Linked DNA regions of Homo sapiens: region 2 is linked to region 1. The links come from fine-mapping of genetic effects on gene expression. Tissue or cell type: whole blood. Region 1 holds a variant in brackets; the other region holds the start of a gene. All regions are shown on one strand. Distances are between the middles of the regions.

Region 1 (8,177 bases):
GGCATTCACACTGGGAGATGCTCTTCTCCAGGAATTCCCTGGGGGATGGAGATCAGAACGGCCTCAAGTCCTGCTCTTTTGCGGATAGTGGCCATGACCGGAGTCCCCAGAGCGAAGCAGGGTGGTGCATCTCACCCCCTGCCCCAAGCCCCCAGATTGTAGAACTGAAAATGCAAGCATCTTTTCTCTTCCTTCCCCACCCCAGGTGCTCATCTGCCGGAACTACCGTGGCGACGTGGACATGTCAGAGGTGGAGCACTTCATGCCCATCCTGATGGAGAAGGAGGAGGAGGGGATGCTGTCGCCCATCCTGGCCCACGGGGGGGTCCGTTTCATGTGGATCAAACACAACAACCTGTATCGTATCCCTTTGCTGGGGGTGCTCCCAGGGGACTCCTGTGTGGGTGTTGGTGTGTGTGCATATCCACACGCCTGCAAGCAGGGCTGGTTTGTGCACAGCGCAAGCATTGGACACAGCCATGCCCTCCTGGAGCTCCCTGCTGCCTGCGGAGACAGGCAGACAATGCACGATGACATGTGTGATGGGTGTGGGGAGAGGAGCAGGTGTGACTTGAACCTCTTCAGCCCAGGGGCCCAGGAAGGGAAATGACACCCTGGAGGAAGCCTGCAGGGAGGCCTGGCTTCTGCCAGCTGGAGGGGTGGGCAGGCACTAGGCGTGGGTGAAGGCTCTGCAGGGAAGAGCCTCATTCCAACAGCTGCACTCGGGGTGGCTGGAGAGGGGGCGTGTAGGGCAGCGAGGCTGGAGTGGTCAGCGGGGTCTGGGGTCTCAAAGAACATCATCTGAAATGTGACAGGAAGTCTCTGGAGGCTTTTAGATGTGTGTCTTCTGGAGGTTTCTGGCTGCTGAGTGGGGCAAGACTGTGGGGACAGGAGAGGACATGGGTAGGTGGGGAGTAGGCTGGGGCCATCGTGCAGGTGGGAGGGGAAGTGGCCTGGACCACGGAGGGGTGGTGGGGTACAGCCCCGCCCAGATCTCAGAGCCCCCCACCCTTCCTGTCCTTGGGCCCATGGGGAGACTTGGCCAAGCCAGTTTCTATCCAGGAGGTCTAACTGGCCACCCCACAGCTTTGGGCAGACCCGCAAGCCCATCTCAGTACCCACACTACTGCGGAAGGGCCTGCTTTGCCACTCACAGCCCGTTTGAGCCCCAGCTCCAGCAGCCATGGGGGATCCCTCACCTTCCCACAGTTCAGTGGGAACAACGACCCCTCACTGCAGGACCATTCGGGTCAGTTGAACTGACTTGTGCATATTGCTCCCAGCAGGCATGGGCTCTGTGCCCTTTCCTGTGTTCTTGGAGACACTTGGGGCCTTGCCAGTACAGTGTGGCCAACGGGCCAGAATATCCGCTGGGAGCCCTTTGGAAATGCAGAATCCCAGGCTCCACCCAGCCCTGCCCCGTCAGAATCTGCATTGTAGGAAGATTTGTTCCTGGTGGCCGGTGTGCACATTCCCATGTGGGCCGTGCTGGCCCAGGGCTCCCTGTGGTGTGCCTCTGTGTAGATTTCACCTGGCTCTGGAAGGCCCTGAGAATAGCTCTGAAGATGATCTTAGGTGGCTTTTTTTTTTTTTTTGAGACAGAGTCTCGCTCTGTCGCCCAGGCTGGAGTGCAGTGGCGCCATCTGGGCTCACTGCAAGCTCCGCCTCCCGGGTTCGCGCTATTCTCCTGCCTCAGCCTCCCGAGTAGCTGGGACTACAGGCGCCCGCCACCACGCCCAGCTAATTTTTTTGTATTTTTTTAGTAGAGACAGGGTTTCACCATGTTAGCCAGGATGGTCTCGATCTCCTGACCTCGTGATCCGCCCGCCTCAGCCTCCCAAAATGCTGGGATTACAGTCGTGAGCCACCGTGCCCGGCCTAGGTGGCTTTTAACCCAGGGAACTGACAGTCCTCTGAAGCCGCCCAGGTATTGGGAGAGGGAGAGGTGGCTGTGGTCTGAGCTCAGCAGGAGCCATCAGATCAGTTTCTGGTTGGGCCCCCACATTTCACACCTGGGCATCTAGGGAAGAGACAGGGAGGGCTCACCCCTCTGGCTTAGTGGACATCGTTTCACCCCCAGCCGGGACAGTGCTCAGCAAGGCCGTGGCTGAGAGGCACCCATGAGAAGGTGAGAGGCCCCCACTGCCCCTGCTTATAAAGCATCTGGGGAGGGCACATTGCCAGGCAGCAGGAGGGAGGCCAGCACTCGTTTGACTGGGCCAGCGTCCCTTTCCTGGGCCCCTGTGCTGTGCTGGGGTGAGGCGGGAAGGGAGAGGATACAGCCCCCACCCTCCCTCCTAGAGCTCACTCCTGGGCAGACGAGCCAGGCAGCACAGATGTGCCATGAACAGGGATGTCCAGGGTGCAGTGCATGGGCCTACAGAGGAAGAACCAGCCTTCTCTGGCGGCCCGGGGACCCATTAGGGAAAAAGGAATAGGAAGCGCCCAGCACACACTGACCCTGGGAGGCAGGGGCTGGCTCCTGTGGCAGAAGGGAACATCTGTGCCAGACATCTCACCTACATTGCCTTGGTGAGTTCATTCACAGGCCTCCATTACACAGGAGAGAAATATCAAGGTTTCTCTAGAAAGGTTTATTTCATGGGCCAAGGCTTGTGTTTCCAAAGCCAGGAAGGGCTGAAGCCAGAATTGGCCCTGGCTGCTTGCCACAGAGTCTGGCCGGGGGACCCTGGACCTCAGCAGGGTCATGATGAGGTCAGCTTTGGAGGAGCAGGGCCAGTGTGTCCTGCTTTCTGCTCCTGGAATGAGCCTCACTCCCTCCCTGCTCAAGGCAGCCCTTCACCCAGCCGCCGGGACAGGTGCCCTGTGCCACCTGCCATCCCTGTGATTCTCCATCTCAGTGAGTGCTCCCTGGGGCCTGGGAGCGCATCTGGCTGGTGACTCCTGTGTCCCAGGTCTAGCTTGGACCAGGAGCTTTGTAGCCCACCATGGGCCAAGTAAACGGCTGGGAGTGGGGATAGGGAAGGCTCTGAGGGTTGTGAGGGTTAGGGGGTCCCTCCATGAACCAGGATCTTCCAGGCAGCAGCCCCAGCCTCTGAATGCTCCTTAACTGTGGCCGCCATGCAGTGGTTGCCACATCCAAGAAGAACGCGTGCGTGTCGCTGGTCTTTTCTTTCCTCTATAAGGTGGTGCAGGTGAGTCTCGCTCGGAGGGGCCGTGGGCTTGGGTGGAGGTTGTCTTGGCTCTGCTTGTGGACCTCCCCATACCTGGCCACCCTACAGAGAGCTGTGGCATCCCCAGGGAGCACTGGGGCTGGAAGCCCAGGAAGTGGGAAAGGGGAGTCCCAACTCCCCACGCCTGTGGAATTCTATAGCTCACGTTGCTCCCCTACCGTGGGGAAGAAAGGAAAGTGAACAGGAAAAGGTAGGGCTCAGAGCAGGGGTGCCCTGACCCTGGAAGGGACAAGCAGGGGTCAGCGAGCTTTGGAAGGATGTGGGGTGACCAGCTGGATGGGGCTGGAATAACCAGCAGAGCTGCAGAGCTGAGCCCACCTCAGAATCTCCCAGGGGGCTCTCAAGGCACAGATGCCTGACGCCCACCTTGGAGAGAGCTGACACGCCAGGCCCAGGCTGCCAGTGAGACACAGATAGCAGCCAGGGTGAAGGCGCCAGGACAGGTGTATGTGTGGTGCAGCTAGGGAGGCCAGCGTGCGTGTGGCAGAGTATGAGGCTGAGGTCAGCTGGGAAGAGGGCGGATTATACAGGAGTGTGGATTTCATTCCACTTCTGATGAAAGGTAGTGGAGGGCTTTAAGCAGGAGACTGACAAGACGTGGTTTGATCTAAAGCAGCCTCTCTGGCTGCTGAGCAGAAGGAGGACTTGAGGCCAGTGAGGAGGCTGCTGCTGGCTTCCCGGAGAGGATGGGCCTGGCCGAGGTGGGCTGTGGGGCTCACGAAAGTGGGGAACAGGACCCAGGAGGCCTGTGCTGGGCCTGGGAAAGCTTTCATCCCTCACTGATGCTGCCTGTGCAGAATGTTGGGGAACAGGGGCAAGCCTGGGCGGTGAGGGCTTGGGGAAGGAGCCGAGGGTCACCTGGGAAGGCCCCACGTGCAGGCCAAGGGCTGCCTTCACTGGACCGGTGATGCTGTCACAGGCAGGGCTGGGCCTGGCTGTGCTGCCTGTGGTTTCCAAGCAGAGGCCGGGTGATCACAGTCCTGAAGCGCGCAGGGGTCAGCAGATCAGAGAATGGGGGATGC[G/A]GGAAGGGGAAGGTCCTCACCCAAGGGTTGGGCTGTGCCTTTCTGTTTTAGTGACGCTCCTTCCTTCAGCATTTGTGCCTGCAAAAGTGCTTCTAACAGCCCCTCTTCTTTGGCGTCCCTTCCTTAACCTTCTGAGCTTTCCATTGAAATGGGGAAGATGCATCAAGCTTTCCACTGAAATGGGGAAGATGGCAGCTCATCAGGTCCTTGCCTGAGTCACTCCAGACTCAGAAAGGGATGACAGTTACAGTCGCTCAGGAGGGGCTGCCTGTCTGCGGGTGTCTGGGCAGGGAAGAGAATGGGAACGCAGAGCTTCTGAAGGCCTCGGGACATCTGCAGTGGCTCCAGCCTGGCCCCACCCCACAGCCAGCCACTGCTGTCCTGCCCCATAACCTGGGTCCAGGGCCCTGTAGCACACCACCGAGCCTGGGAAGTAGGCTGTTGGTAGGACTTAGCGGGCAAATGAATGTGTGCAAGCGTTCATTCATTCCTCATCCGTCCGCTCAATGATCTGCCTCCCATTCCTCCCTCCCTCCCCAACCGCCACAGGTGTTTTCCGAGTACTTCAAGGAGCTGGAGGAGGAGAGCATCCGGGACAACTTTGTTATCATCTACGAGCTGCTGGACGAGCTCATGGACTTCGGCTACCCCCAGACCACCGACAGCAAGATCCTGCAGGAGTGAGTGGGCAGGGGTGGGGCCTGGGGCCAGGCCTGGGCGGTGTCATGACATCGACGTCATCAGGTGTGGAAACAGAAGGGGCAAATTTGTGTTCATGTTGTCCCCCACCTGCCTCCCACCTCCAGCAGTATTCGGGTTTTTACTAAGTTGCTCTTAGTGGTTTTAATTCGTTTCCTCCTCTACGCCCCCACATAACCGTGCTTTTCCTGCTCCTCATCTTTACTCTCCATCCACACAGATGCCTTCAGTACCTTGCTACTAAGGAGTCACCTCCCTTGTTTTTACTGTCATAAAATGAGACTGTGATCGAAATCTCCCCTCTTTGGAATCCTGCCCTTCAGATAAGAAGCAATGTGAATTAAGTGCTTCCTGGGGGCCGGGCCCCAGCACTTCACATTCACTCGATTCACAGCCTCCCCGTATACCGTCTCCCCATTTTACAGGGGACAAGCAAGCAGACTCCCAGAGAAGCCTGTGTTCCTAACCGCTGCACCTCCTGCTCCTTCAGCAGGATGGGGTCACCAGGTTACACTCCGAGGCGTCAGTTCCATCCACGTGCTCAGCAGGGACGGGAAGCAGCTCACACCCACTTCTTGTTTTCCTTCCCAACATGGTCTTCTTGGTCCCCCAAAATGAGCACTTCAGCCTCTATAACTTGAGTGTATTGGCTTTTGGAAATTGTGAAGATTTTTCTGTATGAAGCAGCCCCAGGTGAACCAGAGGCTGCCTTTTCTGGAGCTGCTGAAATCCAAGGGCTATTTTCAAGTCGGTCAGAACCTGCCCTGTACCCCCCACCCAACCCTGCCGAAATGTCAAGGCCAGAAGCTGTGGCGTTGGTGCGGGTACCACCTCCTTCACTCTGAGCGTGTGGCCCCACAGGTACATCACTCAGGAAGGCCACAAGCTGGAAACAGGGGCCCCGCGGCCACCAGCCACCGTCACCAACGCGGTGTCCTGGCGGTCCGAAGGCATCAAGTATCGGAAGAATGAGGTGTTCTTGGACGTCATCGAGTCTGTCAACCTCTTGGTAGGCCTCTTTTCTTTCCTTCTTCTGTAGGGTTTTATCTCTTCCACGATAGAAATAAACACAGCATTTTAAAACTGGCAAAGCCCCGAGAGCCGTTCTGTGTGGTAACAGATAGCAGGATTCAGTTTGGGCCACTCATTGAAATGTGAGTTTGTCTTATCTTTTTTTTTTGAGACGGAATCTCATTCTGTCGCCCAGGCTAGAGTGTGGTGACACGATCTCGGCTCACTGCAACCTCCGCCTCCCAGGTTCAGGCGATTCTCCTGCCTCAGCCTCCCGTGTAGCCGGGATTATAGGCACCCGCCACCACGCTCGGCTAAAGCTTGTTTTCTTTATTAGCATTTATGCTGACTGAGAATCCATACATGCACATTATTTTTAAAAATTAGAAGCAGGGTATGAGGTTAGAAAGTGAAGGGCTCTTATCAGTCACCATGCACAGAAAAAAAAAAAAGAAACTAAAGGGCTCCTATAATCAGAAAGATTAGGATTTATTCACCGTCACCCTCTCGGGCCTCATTCTGTAGACAGACAGAAACAAGTATATTGATTTTTCTATAAACCTGAGATCATAAGATGTGGTTCTCCTGCAGCTTGTTTTTTTGGTGGTGGTTGTTGTTTGGGTTTTGATTTTGCGTTCAGTGTTACTGTTTTGTATATTTTTTTCTTTTGGTTTTTTAATTATGAGGAAAGTTGACGTTTTGAAAATGAATTTTAGCGCTTGTACAGATTTGTGTACCCATCACCACACCCAGGACACAGAACCTCAAAACCTCCTCATGTTGCCCCTTTGTAGCTCCATGCTCCCCTCTTCCCCATTTCCTGGCCACCATTGAACTGTTCTCCATCACTGGAGTCTTCATCGTGTTGTGATTGTCACACGAGTGGCATCATATGTCACCGCAGCTGTCTTTCTGAGATTGTCGTATGAATGGCGTCATACAGTCATGAGCTCTCGAGTCTGGCTGCTTTAACTCATTCTAATTCTTTGCGATTCATCCAAATCCAATTGTTTTGCATATCAAAAGTCTGTTCCCTTTTATATTTATTTATATTTATTTTCTGTTCTGAACCACAGAAGGACATTTGGGTGGTTTTCCAATCTTTGGCAATTGTCAATAGAGTTGCTAGAAACATGTCGTGTCCAGGTTTATGTGTGGACATAAGTTTTCATCTCTCTAGGGTAAATACCCAGGAGTGGGATGGCTGGGTCACACGGTAAGTGTATGTTTACCTTTATAAGAAACTGCCAAACCATTGCTGTTTTGCATTCTCGCCAGCAACAGATGAGGGTTGTGATGACCCCACATCCTTTGTCAGTAGTTTTATTTTTGTCATCCTAATAGGTATGTAGTAGTATGTCAGCACAGTTTTGTGTTTTGTTTTTGTTTTTGTTTTTGAGACACAGTCTCGCTCTTGTCGCCCAGGCTGGAGTGCAATGGCACTATCTCCATTCACTGCAACCTCTGCCTCCCAGGCTTAAGCGATTCTCCTGCCTCAGCCTCCCGAGTAGCTGGGATTACAGGCACCCACCACCAGGCCTGGCTCATTTTTGTATTTTTACTAGAGACGGGGTTTCACCATGTTGGCCAGGCTGGTCTCGAACTCCTGACCTCAGATGATCCACCCGCCTCTGCCTCCCAAAGTGCTGGGATTACAGGTGTGAGCTACCACGCCTGGCCTATTCCATTTTCTTAATGGCTAATAATGTTGAGCATTGCTTTACATGTTTCTTTGTCATCTGTATATCCTCTTTGGAGAAATGTCTCTGTGCATCTTTTTAGCATTTTTAAATTGGGTTATTTTCATATAGTTGAGCCTTGATAGTTCTTTGTGTGTTCCAGATAGAAGTCCTCTGTCAGATAGGTGATTTGCAAGTATTTTCCCCCAGTCTGTAGCTTATCTTTTTATTCTCTTAGCAGTGTTTTTTTTTTTTCGACAGAGTCTCACTTTGTAGCCCAGGCTGTAGTACAAGTGGCATGCTTGGCTCAGTGCAACCTCCACCTCCGGGCTTCAAGTGCTTCTCCAGCCTCAGCCTCCCAAGTAGCTGGGATTACAGACGCATGCCACCATGCCCGGCTAATTTTTGTATTTTTAGTCGAGACAGGGTTTCACTATGTTGGTCAGGGTGGTATCGAACTCCTGACCTCAGGTGATCTGCCTTCCTCGGCCTCCCTAAGTGTTGGGATTACAGGCGTCGGCCACCATGCCCAGCCCCCAATACTATATTGAATAGGAGTGGTGAGAGAGGGC
Region 2 (8,177 bases), 21 kb before region 1:
CATCTTACACAACCACAGCATATTTAGCACTACTAAGAATTTAACATTGGCACGTTACTATTTCTTTTTCTTTTTTTGTAGTTTTTTTTTAATTTGTATTCAAGACTCAACATAATCATTTTCTTTTCCTTTTTTTTTTTTTTTTTTTTTTTGAGATAGGGTCTTGCTCTAGTGCCCAAGCTAGAGTGCATCAATCAAGATCCTAAATCACTGCACCCTCGAACACCTACACCCAGGCTCAAGTGATCCTCCTGCCTTAGCCTCCCGAGGAGCTGAGACCGCAGGTGTGCCCCGCCACATCCGGCTAATTTTTTTCTTTTCTTTTTTTTTTTTTTTTTTTTTTTTGAGACGGAGTCTTGCTCTGTCGCCAGGGCGGAGTGCAGTGGCACGATCTCCGCTCACTGCAACCTCCGCCTCCCGGGTTCAAGTGATTCTCCGCCTCAAGCCTCCTGAGCAGCTGGGATTACAGGCTCGCGCCACCACGCCCGGCTAATTTTTTTTATTTTTAGTAGAGACGGGGTTTCACCATGTTGGCCAAGATGGTCTCCATCTCCTGACCTCGTGAGCCGCCCGCCTCGGCCTCCCAAAGTGCTGGGATTACAGGTGTGAGCCACCGCGCCCGGCAAAAAGATCGCCTTGCTTTTGACACAAAAGTGCTGGCAGCCCCCATCCCCTGGTACCAGAAGCCCCTCTGCACAGTCTTTTCCAGGTGTGGACGGATAATTAGGCAGTGACTTGCTGCCCCCTGCAGGTAAGACTGAGAAAGGCAGCCCCTGTGCCCTCCTTTTTCTTGTGTCCGGTAGATTTGGGGACGTTTGCTTCTCTCTTCTCCACCTCCTTTGCCTTCTCCCCACTACCCCACCCCCCGCCAGCAATTAAAAAAAAAAAGCCACCCTGGCACAATTTGGACAAAATCTATGAGAAATAAAACGTGCAAACGTGCATAACCTTGGACCTAGTAATTCCATTGGTTGCAAAAGTCAGCCAAGATTTGTGGGCACGGATTGTGTTCATTCATTTATCTAGGGCAGTATTAGGGCTGTTTCTAATTTGTTGGCTATTACAAATAAATCTGCAGTGAACATTCATTTACACAATTTTATATGGGTCTATACTTTCATTTCACTTGGGTTAAAACGTAGGAATCTAATTCTTTTGTCATAGTATAAGTGAATGCTTAATCTTTTAAAGAACTGTCAGACTGATTTCTAAACTGTTTATGCCATTTTACATTCACAACAGCAGCACGTTTGAGTTCCAGTTTCAACACATCTTCACAGATACTTGGTAGGCACAGCCTTTTTAAATTTTTCCCATAATAGTTTTTTTTTTTACTAGGTTTTTGATACAGAGGGAAATAGAGAAGAAACCAAAAATTCCGATAGTCCTCTGCTGACATTAAAAAGATATATTCAAGGGCCGGGCACGGTGGCTCACGCCTGTAATCCCAGCACTTTGGGAGGCTGAGGCAGGCGGATCACCTGAGTTCAGGAGTTCGAAACCAGCCTGGACAACATGGCAAAACCCTATCTCTACTAAAAATACAAAAATTAGCGGGGCATGGTGGTGGGCGCCTGTAATCCCAGCTACTCAGGAGGCTGAAGCAGGAGAATCTCTTGAACCTGGGAGGTGGAAGTTGCAGTGAGCCAAAATCGTGCCACTGCATTCCAGCCTGGGCAACAGAGCGAGACTCTGTCTCAAAAAAAAAAAAAAAGATATATGCATGTACACATCGTATGTAAGAAAACCGCACAGTACTGAAAGGATGAAAAGAAAGAAAGAAAGGGCCAGGGGTGGTGGCTCACGCCTGTAATTCTAATGCTTCAGGAGGACTGCTTGAGGACAGGAGTTTGAGACCAACCTGGACAACACAGCAATACCCTATCTCTATTGATTTTTTTTTTTTTTTTTTTTTTTTGAGACGGAGTCTTTGTCTGTTGACCAGGCTGGAGTGCAGTGGTGCGATTTTGGCTCACTGCAACCTCCGACTCCCGGGTTCAAGCGCTTCTCCTGCCTCAGCCTACCAAGTAGCTGAGACTACAAGCGCAGGCTACTATGCCCAGCTAATTTTTGCTTTTTGTGTTTTGTTTTGTTTTGTTTTAGTAGATACAGGGTTTCGCCATGTTGGCCACGCTGGTTTCCAACACCTGACCTCACGTGAACCGCCTACCTTGGTCTCCCAAAGTGCTGATTTAAATATATATGTACTTTTTTTTTGAGATGGAGTCTCTCTCTGTCGCCCAGGCTGGAGTGCAGTGGTGTGATTTCAGCTCACTGCAACCTCCGCCTCCCGGGTTCAAGCGATTCTCCTGCCTCAGCCTCCCGAGTAGCTGAGACTACAGGCGCCCGCCACCACGCCCAGGTAATTTTTTGTATTTTTAGTAGAGACGGGGTTTCACCGTGTTAGCCAGAATGGTCTCCATCTCCTGACCTCGTGATCCGCCCACCTCGTTTTCCCAAAGTGCTGGGATTACAGGCGTGAGCCACCGCGCCCGGCATAAAATAGATTTTTAATTGTTTTAACATACCACCAACCTTGTCACATGATATTGTCATTTACCTAAAGCTGAAAAATTAATGAATACTGATTAGGTTTACAAAATTAGGTTCAGCTATCCAGTGAACGCTCAAAATATGGCAATAAAAGAGAACGGGGGTGGTGGGGCGTGGCTCAGGCCTGTGATCCCTGCGCTTTGGAAGGCCGAAGCAGGAGGATCACTTGAACCCACGAGTTCGAGACCAGCCTGGACAACACAGCGAGACCCCATCTCGACAAAAAAATTTAAATGAAAATATTAGCCGCGCTCAGTGGCGCCCGTCTGCAGTCTGCTACTGGGGAGGCTGAGGCGGGAGGATCTCTTGAGCCCAAGGGTTCAAGGCTGCAGTGAGCCACGATCGCGCCACTCCACTCCAGCCTAGGTGACAGACCAAGATCGTGTCTCTAAAAAAGAAAAAAAAATCAAGGAGAGAGAACAGGTCACCCAAAAGTGCGCAAAACGCTCAAAAAGGGGTTGGGTTTCCAGCACCCTGTGTGAAGAATGGGAGACCGGAAGTGGGCGCCAAATTCGGAAGTGTGGCAGCAGATAGGAATCGAAGGGCACTCATTCGCTTGGCTCTCTGTCCCGCCCACTACCCGGAAGTGTGGCCCGGGTCCAGAACCAAGAGCGCATGCTCACCTTGTAGCTCAGCCAATCAAAGAGAAGCGAGGCGGCCATTCGGGCGGAAATAGTGTTTGCAAACAGGAAGTGTGGCACTCCAGCTACCGAAGCACTGGAGAGTGTCATGGAGGCCTACGAGCAGGTCCAAAAGGGACCCCTGAAGCTGAAAGGCGTCGCAGAGCTGGGAGTGACCAAGCGGTGAGGCCCGAGGGCCCGCGGGATTCCGTCTTCATCCCCCTTAGACCTTTTCTCGGGACCCCTGGCCCTGATCCTCCGACCCGCCGCCTCCTCATGTCTTTTTCCAGGAAGAAGAAAAAGAAGGACAAAGACAAAGCGAAACTCCTGGAAGCAATGGGAACGAGCAAAAAGAACGAGGAGGAGAAGCGGCGCGGCCTGGACAAGCGGACCCCGGCCCAGGCGGCCTTCGAGAAAATGCAGGAGAAGCGGGTGAGCAGAAGCAGAAGGCGGCGGGGAGGCGGGAACACCCGGCGCCGGGAGACTGGAAATTGGGGTCAGGGCTGGGACGCTCCGAGGGCAGGGGAGCGGTCAGAGGAGACCTTAATTACGGGGAGAGGATGCTGTACGTGAGTGAGAGAAGAGTCGCCCTCTGCCGGGGGAGCTCCAAGGATGAGAAGACCCCGCTGGCCCGAGTGGGCAGCAGAGGGGAGAGCTAGAACTGGCGTTGAAAGGAGGCCAGAGCTGGAGACCCGGGTTTGGATTCCAGTGCTGTGGCTTATTTGCCCTGCGACACTAGGCCAGTGACTTTCTTATTTCCGTGCCTCAAGTTTCCTCTTCTGTACGAGTCAGGGTAGTAACTTATTCTAAGAGGGTTGGGAACTTGAGAGGAAGTCATGAAAGTAAAAAGCAGTGCATACATGTTCAGTGGATGCCAGCTCTTGATATTAAATGGCCATGCTCGCCGCTCGAAGTCACCACAAAGTTTGTTTCCAAGACAACTTTGTTTGGCAGATTCAAACATGCTGTATTTTTTAAAAAATTAGTTATTTTTGGCGGGGTCAGAGCACTGCAGCCTCTGCCTCCGGGGTTCAAGCAATTCTCCTGCCTCAGCCTCCCGAGTAGCTGGGATTGCAGGCGCCCGCCACCACACCTGGCTAATTTTGGTATTTTTCGTAGAGATGCGGTTTCACCATGTTGGCCAGGCTGATCTCGAACTTCTGATCTCAAGTGATCCGCCCGCCTCAGCTTCCCAAAGTGCTGGGATTACAGGCGTGAGCCACCGCACCCAGTCTCAGCTGTTGATATTGAATGGCCATGCCCATGACGACTTTGTTTGTATTGTATTATAAGGCTCCGATAAATTATTTTTTCTTAACACCATAAATGTGTGCAGTGGAGAACAGAAGAGTTCACAGTAAGACAGAAACTGGGTCCATTATGCTGGGGAGAGGGAATAATCAGTGTAGGTCAGTGATTCTCACCTGGGGGTAGTCTCCACCCCCCTAAACTCCCACCCCGAAGCACATGTGGCAATGTCTGGAAACATTTTTGGTTCTCAACTGGGTTGGGGTGGGGACTACTGGCAACTAGTGGCTAGAGGCCAGGGATGACACCACACACCCTGCGATACACAGGACAGCCTGCCGCAGCAAAGAGTGATCCGGCTCCAAATGTCAGTAGCACTGAGGCTGAGAAACCCTAACCCTGGTCTAGGTGATTCTGTACGGTGACACTGGGGAAAATGGACCTTGGGGACAATTAACTCCTTACTCCCAGATCTAATTCAGGCATACAGAAAACACATGGATGCACTACCTCTGGCATGACAGACCTGAGTTTGACTCTGCCTCTACCACAAATTAGTGGTGTGACCCTGGGCAAGCCGGCTACCTATTACTTAAAGTAGCACTAAAGTCTGCCTCACAGGGTTGTGGTAAGGATTTAACAAGTCAGGCGGGCGGATCACGAAGTCAGGAGTTCAAGACCAGCCTGGCCAACATGGTGAAACCCTGTCTCTACTAAAAATACAAAAATTAGCCGGGCATGGTGGCACACACCTGTAATCCCAGCTACTTGGGAGGCTGAGGCAGGAGGATTGCTTGAACCAGTACCCGGGAGGCAGAGGTTGCAGCGAGCCGAGATCACGTCACTGCACTCCAGGCTGGCAACAGAGTGAGACTCCGTCTCAGTGAGACTCAGTCTGGCTCTGTCACCGAGGCTGGAATGCAGTGGCTCGATCTCGGCTCACTGCAACCTCCGCCTCCGGGGTTCAAGCGATTCTCCTGCCTCAGCCTCCTGAGTAGCTGGGATTACAGGCGCCTGCCACGACGCCCATCTAATTTTTTTGTATTTTTAGTAGAGATGGAGTTCCACCACGTTAGCCAGGCTGTTCTTGAACCCCTGACCTCAGGTGATCCGCCTGCTTCAGCCTCCCAAATTGCTGGGATTACAGGCGTGAGCCACCACGCCCGGCCTTTTTTTAATTTTTTGAAAAAGCCTCGCTCTGTTGTCCAGGCTGGAGTGCATTGGTATGATCTCAGCTCACTGCAACCTCTGCCTCCTGGGTTCAAGCGATTCTCCTGCCTTAGCCTCCTGAGTAGCTGGGACTACAGGCGCCCACCACCATGCCCAGCTAATTTTTGTATTTTTAGTAGAGACGGGGTTTCACCATGTTGGCCAGGCTGGTCTCGCTCTCCTGACCTCAAGTGATTCACCCGCCTCAGCCTCCCAAAGTGCTGGGATTACAGGCGTGAACCACCATGCCTGGCCAAGTAAATGCATTTCTTTCCCTTCTAACCCTGAGGTTGTAGTCAGAGGCAGGGCTGAGATTTTATTGCTGGAAGCCAGAATGAGACTTATGCGAGACTTAGGCAGCTATTAAGAGACTAATAATGGGAGCTCAGAGTAGAGCAGTCGTGATGGAGCCAGTGGAAGGTAACAGGTTTGGAATAGGTTTTCAAGGATGAATTCAGGGTTAGCTGTTGGGTTGGATGTAAGCTGGGAAAGAAAGAAGAGTCAAGGATGACCAAGACTTTGGGCTGGGCAGTTTGATGAATGAAGGTGCTGTTTACTGGGGTGGGAAGGATTGCAGGTAAAGCAGGTTTTCTGGAGTGGGAGTTGAGGGAGGGGGAACCAAAGCTATAGTTTTAAAGAAGGTAAATGCAGTGCCCCAGTAGAAATCCAAGTGGAGTCAGCCAGGCACAGTGGCTCATGCCTGTAATCCCAACATTTTGGGAGGCCGATGTGGGAAGATCAGTTGAGCCCAGGAGTTCAGGACTAGCCTGGGCAACATAGCGATACCCTGTCTCTTCAAAAACTAAAATAGTAGCTGGGTGTCACGCCTGTGGGCAGAGCCCAGCCAGGTGCCTGGCATTGTGTGGCAGCTGGACAAGTCAGTGTGGCTTCTCACAGGGAGACACAGGCTTTGGCTGGGCTCACAGCAGCAGGAAGAGGGACAGAGATGGGCAGGGCACTCGCCTTAGAGGGAGAATCAGCCAGGTGAGGGCTGACTGGACACAGGAGGTGAGGGAATGAAGGAGAAGGGGGGGACAGAGAGGAGCAGCCAGGTGGCCCCTACCAATAATATCTCATGATGCTCTGGGTTGACTGGGCTTAGCAGGGTCTGACCTCACTTGGAGTCTGGTGTGGTCAGATGGCAGCTGGGCCTGGAGTCTCTGAAGGTGCAGCTGGGCTGCAGCATCTAAGATGGCTTTGTCGCCATATAGCTGGTGCCTCAGTGCTTCTTTTTTTTTTTTTTTTTTTTTTTGAGACAGTCTCGTTCTGTTGCCCAGGCTGGAGTGCAATGGCAAGATCTCAGCTCACTGTAACCTCCACCTCCCGGGTTCAAGCTATTCTCCTGCCTCAGCCTCCCAAGTAGCCGGGACTACAGGCGCATGCCACCACACCTGGCTAATTTTTGTATTTTTAGTAGAGACGGGGTTTCACCATGTTGGCCAGGCTGGTCTCAAACTCCTGGCCTCAAGTGATCCTCCCACCTTGGCCTCCCAAAGTGCTGAGATTACAGACATGAGCCGCCATGCCCCACCTCTCAGTGCTTCTTTCGTGGCCTCTTCCTTCATGTCATCTCATCTTCCAGGTCCTTTCTTTCCAGCAGGGCCATCAGACTTCCTGCACAGCAACTGGCTTCCAAGGGCACAAAGCTAATGCTGCCAGGTCTTATGCATGGACCCAGAACTGGTACTGTGTTCCTTCGAGTTAACTGAGTCCACGGCCAGGTCAGAGTCAGTGTGGCATGGGGACTGCACAAGGGATGAATCATAGGCAGCACAGTTATAGGGGCCACCAAAGAGTGGGCCACAGTCACCCAGCCAGGAAGTGTGGAGCCAGGTGTGGCCTCAGATCTGTCTGGCTTTATATCCCACACTCCAACTCTTTTTTTTTTTTTTTTTTTTTTTTTTGACAGGGTCTCTCTCTCTGTCACCCAGGCTGGAGTGCATTGGTGTGATCATAGCTCACTGCAGCCTCAACCTCCTGGGTCAAGCAGTCCTCTCACCCCAGCCTCTTGAGTAGCTGGGACCACAGGTGTGCACCACCAAAATCAGCTGATTTTCTTGTAGAGTTGGGGTCTCCTTATGTTGCCCAGGCTAGTCTTGAACTCCTGGGCTCAAGCTATCCTCCTGCCTTAGCCTCCCAAAGTGCTGGGATTACAGGCATGAGCCACCGCGCCCAGCCCACACTCCCAGCTGCTACCAGATACTGACCTTTCCAGGTGTCATTGAGTGTTTGAAGTGAGGATCAGAGCAGGTCATGGTGCAGGAGGCATATTTCAGAATAACCCTGGGGATGGTGATCCTGGTCTTGTAGCCCTAACATCAGGATGGGAAGTGTCACTTGAGCACCTGCTCTATGTCAGACCCTTTACCTCTCTCTTTCTCATCATTCCTGAAACCCGCTCTGGGACTTTGTTTTCCTCCAAACTGGGAGTGCTAACAGCCTCCTCAGGATGCAGGAAGCATGCCGACAGCTCCCAGCAGAGTCTGCTCATGGGTACGCGCTCAGGCATTGCTGGTTCATTTCCTGCCACTCACGAAGCTGGCAAGT

What was found. PIP is the estimated chance that this variant, and not a neighbour inherited with it, causes the effect.
Region 2: it holds the start of FAM32A, and the variant in region 1 is fine-mapped to the expression of FAM32A in whole blood (TOPMed, PIP above 0.99).

What each region holds. Positions count from the first base shown.
Region 1 is chr19:16,203,254-16,211,430 of GRCh38, forward strand. AP1M1 (adaptor related protein complex 1 subunit mu 1) reads left to right here. Exons shown (of 12, transcript NM_032493.4): 2 at 206-362; 3 at 3,088-3,155; 4 at 4,766-4,896; 5 at 5,777-5,924. Among named protein-coding and RNA genes, the nearest start is that of AP1M1, 9.4 kb to the left of the region's middle. RefSeq lists a silencer at 1,175-1,324. The variant G/A (reference allele first, on the strand shown) is at 4,217.
Region 2 is chr19:16,182,161-16,190,337 of GRCh38, forward strand. FAM32A (family with sequence similarity 32 member A) reads left to right here and starts at 3,250. Exons shown (of 4, transcript NM_014077.4): 1 at 3,250-3,356; 2 at 3,464-3,605. The coding sequence starts at 3,283. RefSeq lists enhancers at 534-1,033, 2,257-2,892, 2,795-2,844.